2 linked regions of the Homo sapiens genome follow. The protein of the gene in region 1 interacts with the protein of each later gene in a pairwise test. Each region holds a gene or a part of one and is shown in the gene's direction. Other genes may lie near its edges.

Region 1 (3,759 bases):
AAAGGAAGTGATCTGTATTTGGGAATAGGGCATTGCAATGGGAATGCCTGTGCTATAGTCAACTATGTACATATTCAGAGGAGTAAAGGAAAACAAGTTTTTAAGGACAAATGACGAGGATTACAAAATTACTTTGAGGTAATTATTCTTGGCTACCAAGATCAATAACAAGGATGACACCAGTCCAAGGTTGACAGGCAGTTGCTAGGCAGATTTTCTCACGAGAGAAGTTTTTTGGTGCAAGGTTGCAGTGGCCTTTGTGTAAGGTTGTAGTTTTTGTAAAAAGGAAAAAAAAAAACCCTTAATCCTTGTTATCAGACATACAAGGGTGAGACCCTTCTCTTCAGGGTTGCATTTTTGTTAACACTAGTGACTCCATTTTGATTTTGACAACTTGCACATATCTTAGTTGTTGGGTTTTTTTTGTTTGTTTTTTGTTTTGTTTTTTTTTTTTTTTTTGACAATGGTGACTTGCTCTGTCACCCAGGCTGGGGTGCAGTGGCCCGATCATGGCTCACTGCAGCCTCAAGCAGTCCTCCCCCTTCAGCCTCCAAACTGTTTGGATTATAGGCAAGAGCTACTTACTACACCTGGCCATGGATCTTCTTGTGTCAACTTTGAGACCAAATTTACTGCAGTGCTTAAAATGTTTTAAGAAGTTATACACATGTGCTGGATGTGGTAGCTCACGCCTGTAATCCTGTAGCAGGACAAGCCGCAGACAAATCCCCTCAGACACCGAGTTAAAGAAGGAAGGGCTTTATTTGGCTGGGAGCTTTGGCAAGACTCACGTCTCCAAAAACTGAGCTCCCCGAGTGAGCAATTCCTGACCTTTTTAAGGGCTTACAACTAAGGGAGTCTGCGTGAGAGGGTCGTGATCAATTGGGCAAGCAGGGGGTACGTGACTGGGGGTTGCATGCACCGGTAATTAGAACAGAACAGAACAGGACGGGATTTTCACAGTGCTTTTCTATACAATGTCTGGAATCTATAGATAACATAACTGGTTAGGTCAGGGCTCGATCTTTAACCAGGACCAGGGTGCGGCAGCGCTGGGCTGTCCACCTCTGCCTTTTAGTTTTTACTTCTTCTTTCTTTGGAGGCAGAAATTGGGCATAAGACAATATGAGGGGTGGTCTCCTCCCTTAATCCCAGCACTTTGGGAGGCCAAGGAAGGCGGATTACGAAGTCAGGAGTTTGAGACTAGCCTGACCAAAATGGTGAAACCCCGTCTCTGCTAAAAATACAAAAATTAGTCGGACATAGTGGCGTGTGCCTGTAACCCCAGCTACTCAGGAGGCTGAGGCAGGAGAATCGCTTGAACCTGGGAGGCAGAGGTTGCAGTGAGCTGAGATGGAGCCACTGCACTGCAGCTTGGGTGACAGAGCAAGACCCTGTCTCAAAAAAAAAAGTTATACACATGTAATTATTGCATGTTCCTTCATTATTAGTTTTAACATAGACTTGTTAATCTCAATTAGCTTAATTAGCATTTGAGTTTATTGCTAAAACTTCTTTATGAGTTTTAATAATGAGGCTTGGCCGAGTGTGGTGGGTCATACCTGTAATCCCAGCATTTGGGAGGCCAAGGCGGGTAGATCACTTGAGGTCAGGAGTTCAAGACCAGCCTGGCCAACATGGTTAAACCCCATCTCTACTAAAAATACAAAAAAATTAGCTGGGCATGGTGGCACATGCCTATAATCCCAGCTGCTCAGGAGGCTGAGGTGGAAGAATCGCTTGAACCCAGGGGGCAGAGGTTGCAGTGAGCCGAGATCGTGCCATTGCACTCTAGCCTGGGCAACAGAGCAAGATCGTCTAACAACAACAAAAAAAAAACCAAGGCTGAATTTCTTGAGTGATTGAGCAGTGGCTATCTATTGGACAGTCCAGCTGAACAGTATTTTCCTCAGGCTGGGTGCAGTAACTCACACCTATAATTCCGGCACATTGGGTGGCTGAGGTGGGCAGATCACTTGAGGCCAGGAGTGAGACCAGCCTGGGTAACGTGCCTAGACTATATCTCTACAAAAAATTTTTTAAATTAAGTGGCCCAGTGGCCAGCTGTAGTCCCAACTCCTTGGGAGGCTGAGGCAGGGGGGTCACTTGAGCTAGGAGCTTAAGGCTGTGGGGAGCCATGATTGCATCACCACGCTCCAGCCTGGGTGACAGAGTGACCTCGTCTCAAGGCTGCAGGGAGCCATGATTGCATCACTGCACTCCAGCCTGGGTGACAGAGAGAGGCCTCGTCTCAAGGCTGCGGGGAGCTGTGATTGCATCACTGCACTCTAGCCTGGGTGACAGAGTGACCTCGTCTCAAGGCTAGAGGGAGCCATGATTGCATCACTGCACTCCAGCCTGGGTGACAGAGAGAGACCTCGTCTCAAGGCTGCAGGGAGTCATGATTGCATCGCTGCACTCTAGCCTGGGTGACAGAGACCTTGTCTCAAGGCTGCGGGGAGTCATGATTGCATTGCTGCACTCTAGCCTGGGTGACAGAGAGACCTTGTCTCAAGGCTGTGGGGAGTCGTGATTGCATCACTGCACTCTAGCCTGGGTGACAGAGAGACCTCGTCTCAAGGTATGTTTCATGTATCTTCTCTTTTTTCATTGATAAAGGCCCAAACTTCCCAGAGAGAAAAACATACAGCCTTAAGGAATTTGGCTAGAAGTCTATTCAGGGCATATGATACGATAGAACAGGGATTCTGTAGAACCTGGAAGAAAGTAGTCACTCTAGGAGTAGGTTAGCTTGAGAGAAGTAGCAAGAATGTACTTAAAGCAGCAGATAATGAGATAGAATTGGGGTAAATTGCGGTAGGAATATGTTAGAAGCAAGGGTGGAACTGTCGTCACTGTTACCTCGATGGCGAAGCCAGAATGTGAGGCTCTTGCTCTTAGAACTCACGTGAGTACCATAGCCTCGCGTTGTCTTGCAGGACACAGATTATCCTTATTTGGGTACCACCATGGACACCTATAAGGAACTGATTGAGAGGATTCCTGAGTTGAACAAAGTGGCACGAGCAGCTGCAGAGGTCGCTGGTCAGTTCGTGATTAAACTAACCCATGATGTTGAATTGAACCTGGACTATGAGAGGTACAACAGCCAACTGCTTTCATTTGTGAGGGATCTGAACCAATACAGAGCAGACATAAAGGTGAGCACTGATTCCAATTACGTTTTTATTTTGCTGAATGTCAAGTATTTTGAAATGTGATGTGTTCCTGTGTGTTCCTGTTGGAAGGGTGATTGTAGCCATAGTACATTTTAAAGTGAACTGAGGTATAATTGTATGTAGAATTGGTAACTTGTTTGAGAGAAGTCGGGAGGCTGTGGATTAGAGACCTAGGACAGAGCTCAGCAGGTGTTTCAGAATCCAGAGCAGTGTCAGGTTTTCTGTCACTCATGTCTCCCAGGCAGCCCGTCAGTAGGACACGGAATATGAAGATCTCAGCAAGGAGTTGGGCTGTGTGCCTCTCGGGCGTGACCCGGATGGAAAGACAGCACAGCTAGCAGGATTCCATCTCGTAGTGATCTGCGCATCTAAAAGTCAAATATTCTATTAAACGAAACTGATAAGCAGGGTGAGGTGGTGCATACCCGTAGCCCCAGCTACTTCTGCTGAGGCAGGAGGATTGCTGGAGTCCAGCCCAGGCAACATAGCAAAATCCCATCTCTAAATAAATTAATAAAACTAATATTAAAGTAGCTTCCAGATTGTTTTATGGTACTAGGAGTTGATTTTTAACAGATCT
Region 2 (3,759 bases), on another chromosome or scaffold:
ACAATGGGTGTCGTGACTGTAAGATTTTCCATAGTCCTCAAATCCATCCAGCTGCTCAATCCTTCAGAAACTGACACTGTAATTGTAACTGAAATCCTATCCATGATGTAGACTTCAGATTTCTCAGCTGATGCACACTGCTGTTGGTACTCTATGGCCGAATATAAGTATTATACATGTCCTGTGGTTTATCCTTAGATTGTCATTTAGTAGAAAGGTCTCAAACTGGGCTTAGTGCTGTGAAATCATAGTCCCAGCTACTTGGGAGGCTGAGGTGAGAGGATCGCTTGAGCCTAGGGTTCAAGACCAGCCTGGGAAACATAGGGAGACCTCATCGCAAATAAATAAATAAATAAATAATAAATGTTTCGTTATATAGGAAAACAAACATGTAAAGTTTGTTCTTAGCTGCTGGTAATGTTGCAACCATAACTCCTTACTGAACTATAACACTTAAAATTAGTTACCATGGTAAATTTTATGTTATGTGTATTTTTTAACACAATTAAAAAAAAACTTCTGTCTTCCTAAAGTTCAGTGTAGTTGTCATATATTCTTACAAGTTTTTACTTTATATATTTTCAAGACATAACATTTGTAGAAAATTTGCAAGAATAGTACAATGAACTCATATACTTTTCACCTAGATTCACCAATTGTTAATAGCTTCTGCTCCATTGTTTTCATGTCTCTTCCCTCCCTCTCTTACCCTGCTGCCCACACACTCACACACACACTTACGGATATTATGTTTACTCTTATTAATGCTGCATTGTTCAGATAAGGTTTCAGCTATTATGGCCCTTTACCCTAAGTACTTGAAAGTGTTTATATATCCTCAGAACAAAGAAAAAGTCATTCCTTGGATAATCACTGCACAATGATCAAACTCAGGACATTTAACAATGAGAACCTGCAGTCATTTAATACACAGAGTATACTCAGATTTTGCCAGTTATCCAGATAATTTTCTTTTTTCTTTCTTATTTTTTTTTTTCAGACGGAGTCTCACTCTGTTGCCCAGGTTGGAGTGCAGTGGCAAGATCTCGGCTCTCTCTAAACTCTGCCTCCCAGGCTCAAGAGATTCTCATGCCTCAGCCTCCTGAGTAGTTGGGACTACAGGCAATGGCCACCGCACCTGCCTAATTTATTTTTTCTTTTGTATTTTTAGCAGAGCCTGGGTTTCACCATGTTGGCCAGGCTGGTCTCTAACTCCTGACCTCAGATGATCCGCCCACCTCGGTCTCCCAAAGTGCTGGGATTCCAGGTGTGAGCCACCACGCCCGGCTGGCTGATACTGACATTTTTCAAGAGGATAGACCAGTTGGTTTGCGGAACGTTTAGCACTTTGGGCTTTTTTGTGTAGTTTCTAAAGACTGTTTTTTCACTCACCATTTATTGGTGCCTACTCATGCCATATAACTTGCTAGGTGCTAGGAGTCTAAATGCTAATGAGAGACAGGATGTCAGCCTTGAGTCATTTAATATAATAAGGACAATCAGAAATACAATAACAGATAAGTGCAAAGGAGGCAACAAAGTTGTCTGAGGGCAGTCTTCAGAAAGGAAGAGGGTAATATTTGGAAAACCCTGTTTTCCTGTCTTCTGCCAACAGACTCCTGAAATAATGTTCTTGGGATTCTTATCAACACATTTATTATTACAGTACCTAAAGCTTTTATTTAATAAGACCAAGAGCATGAATATTATTTTCTTATTCATATTTCATGTGTTGCTGCTTAAAATGATAATTTTGTTTTATCTTTAAGGGCAGGAGCCTGAAGCTGATAGCCAGGAACTGGTTCAGCCAAAGACTGGGTGTGAGCTTGGAGATGGTCCTGATACCAAGAGGGTGTGCCTGCGAAATGAAGAGCAGATGAAACTGCCCGCAGAAGGTAGGTAGTCCATTAAGCATGCAAATTGTAGGGTGTCTGTTTCCACAGTATTATAATTTTCTTTTTTTTCTGAGATGGAGTCTCACTCTGTCACCCAGGCTGGAGTGCAGTGGCTCAATCTTGGCTCACTGCAACATCCACCTGCTGGGTTTAAGTGATTCTCCTGCCTCAGCCTCCCGAGCAGCTAGGATTACAGGCGTATGCCACCACAGGCACCTAATTTTTGTAATTTTAGTAGAGACGGGGTTTTGTCATGTTGCACAGGCAGGTGTCGAACTCCTGACCTCAGATGATCCACCCAGCTTAGCCTCCCAAAGTCCTGAGGTTACAGCCCTGCCACAGTGCCTGACAAATAAATGTTTCTTTTTTTTTTTTTTTTGTATTTTAGTAGAGACGGGATTTCACCACATTAGCCAGGCTGGTCTTGAACTCCCGACCTCAAGTGATCTGCCCACCTTGGCATCCCAAAATGTTGGCATTAAAGGTGTGAGCCACCATGCCTGGCCCAGATAATTTCCTTTATAGAATTTCTTTTTCTGATCCAGAGTCCAGTTCAAGATCACGTCTTACATGTGCTTGTCATGTGTTTCTAGTTTCCTTTAATCTGGAATGTTTCCTTAATTTTTCTTTGTCATTCAGGATACGGACATTTTTGAAGAGGATAGACAAGTTGGTGTGCAGAATGTTCAGGATTTGGGGATTTTTCATGTATTTTTTAAAGAACTTTTTTCACTCAGCGTTTATTGGTGGCTACTCATGCCATGTAGGAGTCTAAGTGCCAGGAGTGTAAGTGCTGTGAGAGACAGGGTTTCAGTCTTGAGTCATTTAATATGATAAGGACAATCAGAAGTAGAATAATAAAGAAGTGCAAAGGCAGCAACAAAGTTGTCTGAGGGCAGTCTTCGGAAAGGAAGAGGGTAATATTTGGAAAACCCTGTTTTCCTGTTTTCTGCCAACAGACTCCTGAAATCATGTTCTTGGGATTCTTATCAACACATTTATTATTACACTAGTGAAAGCTTTTATTTAATAACACTGAGAGCATGAATATTATTTTCTTGTTCATATTTCATGTTTTACTGCTTAAATTGATTATATATATACACATATATATGTGTATATATACACATATATATGTGTATATATACACATATATACACATATATACACATATATATGTGTGTATATACACATATATACACATATATACACATATATATGTGTGTATATACACACATATATATACACATATATATGTGTGTATATACACACATATATATACACATATATATGTGTGTATATACACACATATATATACACCCTATATATGTGTGTATATACACATATATATACACCTATATATGTGTGTATATACACATATATACACACCTATATATGTGTGTATATACACACATATATACACATATATGTGTGTATATACACATATATATACATATATATGTGTGTATATATACACACATATATATGTATATATACACATATACATATATGTGTGTATATATACATATATACATATATACACATATATATGTGTATATATATACACACATATATGTATATGTATATATATATATACACACACATATATATGTATATGTATATATATATGTATATGTATATATATATATATATATATATATATATATATATATTTTTTTTTTTTTTTTTTTTTTTTTTTTTTAAGGGCCAGAGCCTGAAGCGGATAGCCAGGAACAGGTTCACCCGAAGACTGGGTGTGAGCGCGGAGATGGTCCTGATGTCCAGGAGTTGGGCCTGCCAAATCCAGAGGAGGTGAAAACACCTGAGGAAGGTAGGCAATCCATTAGGCATGCAAATTGTAGGG

What was found. The genes of interacting proteins can lie anywhere in the genome.
Region 2: the proteins of TFRC (region 1) and PAGE1 interact in binary tests that used the Homo sapiens proteins (3 or more experiments, as listed by UniProt).

What each region holds. Positions count from the first base shown.
Region 1 is NC_000003.12:196,054,482-196,058,240, reverse strand, and holds part of TFRC (transferrin receptor protein 1), read left to right. Parts: intron 1-2,939; coding exon 2,940-3,161; intron 3,162-3,759. UniProt on the Homo sapiens protein: Cellular uptake of iron occurs via receptor-mediated endocytosis of ligand-occupied transferrin receptor into specialized endosomes. Endosomal acidification leads to iron release.
Region 2 is NC_000023.11:49,689,385-49,693,143, reverse strand, and holds part of PAGE1 (P antigen family member 1), read left to right. Parts: intron 1-1,769; coding exon 1,770-1,895; intron 1,896-3,600; coding exon 3,601-3,726; intron 3,727-3,759.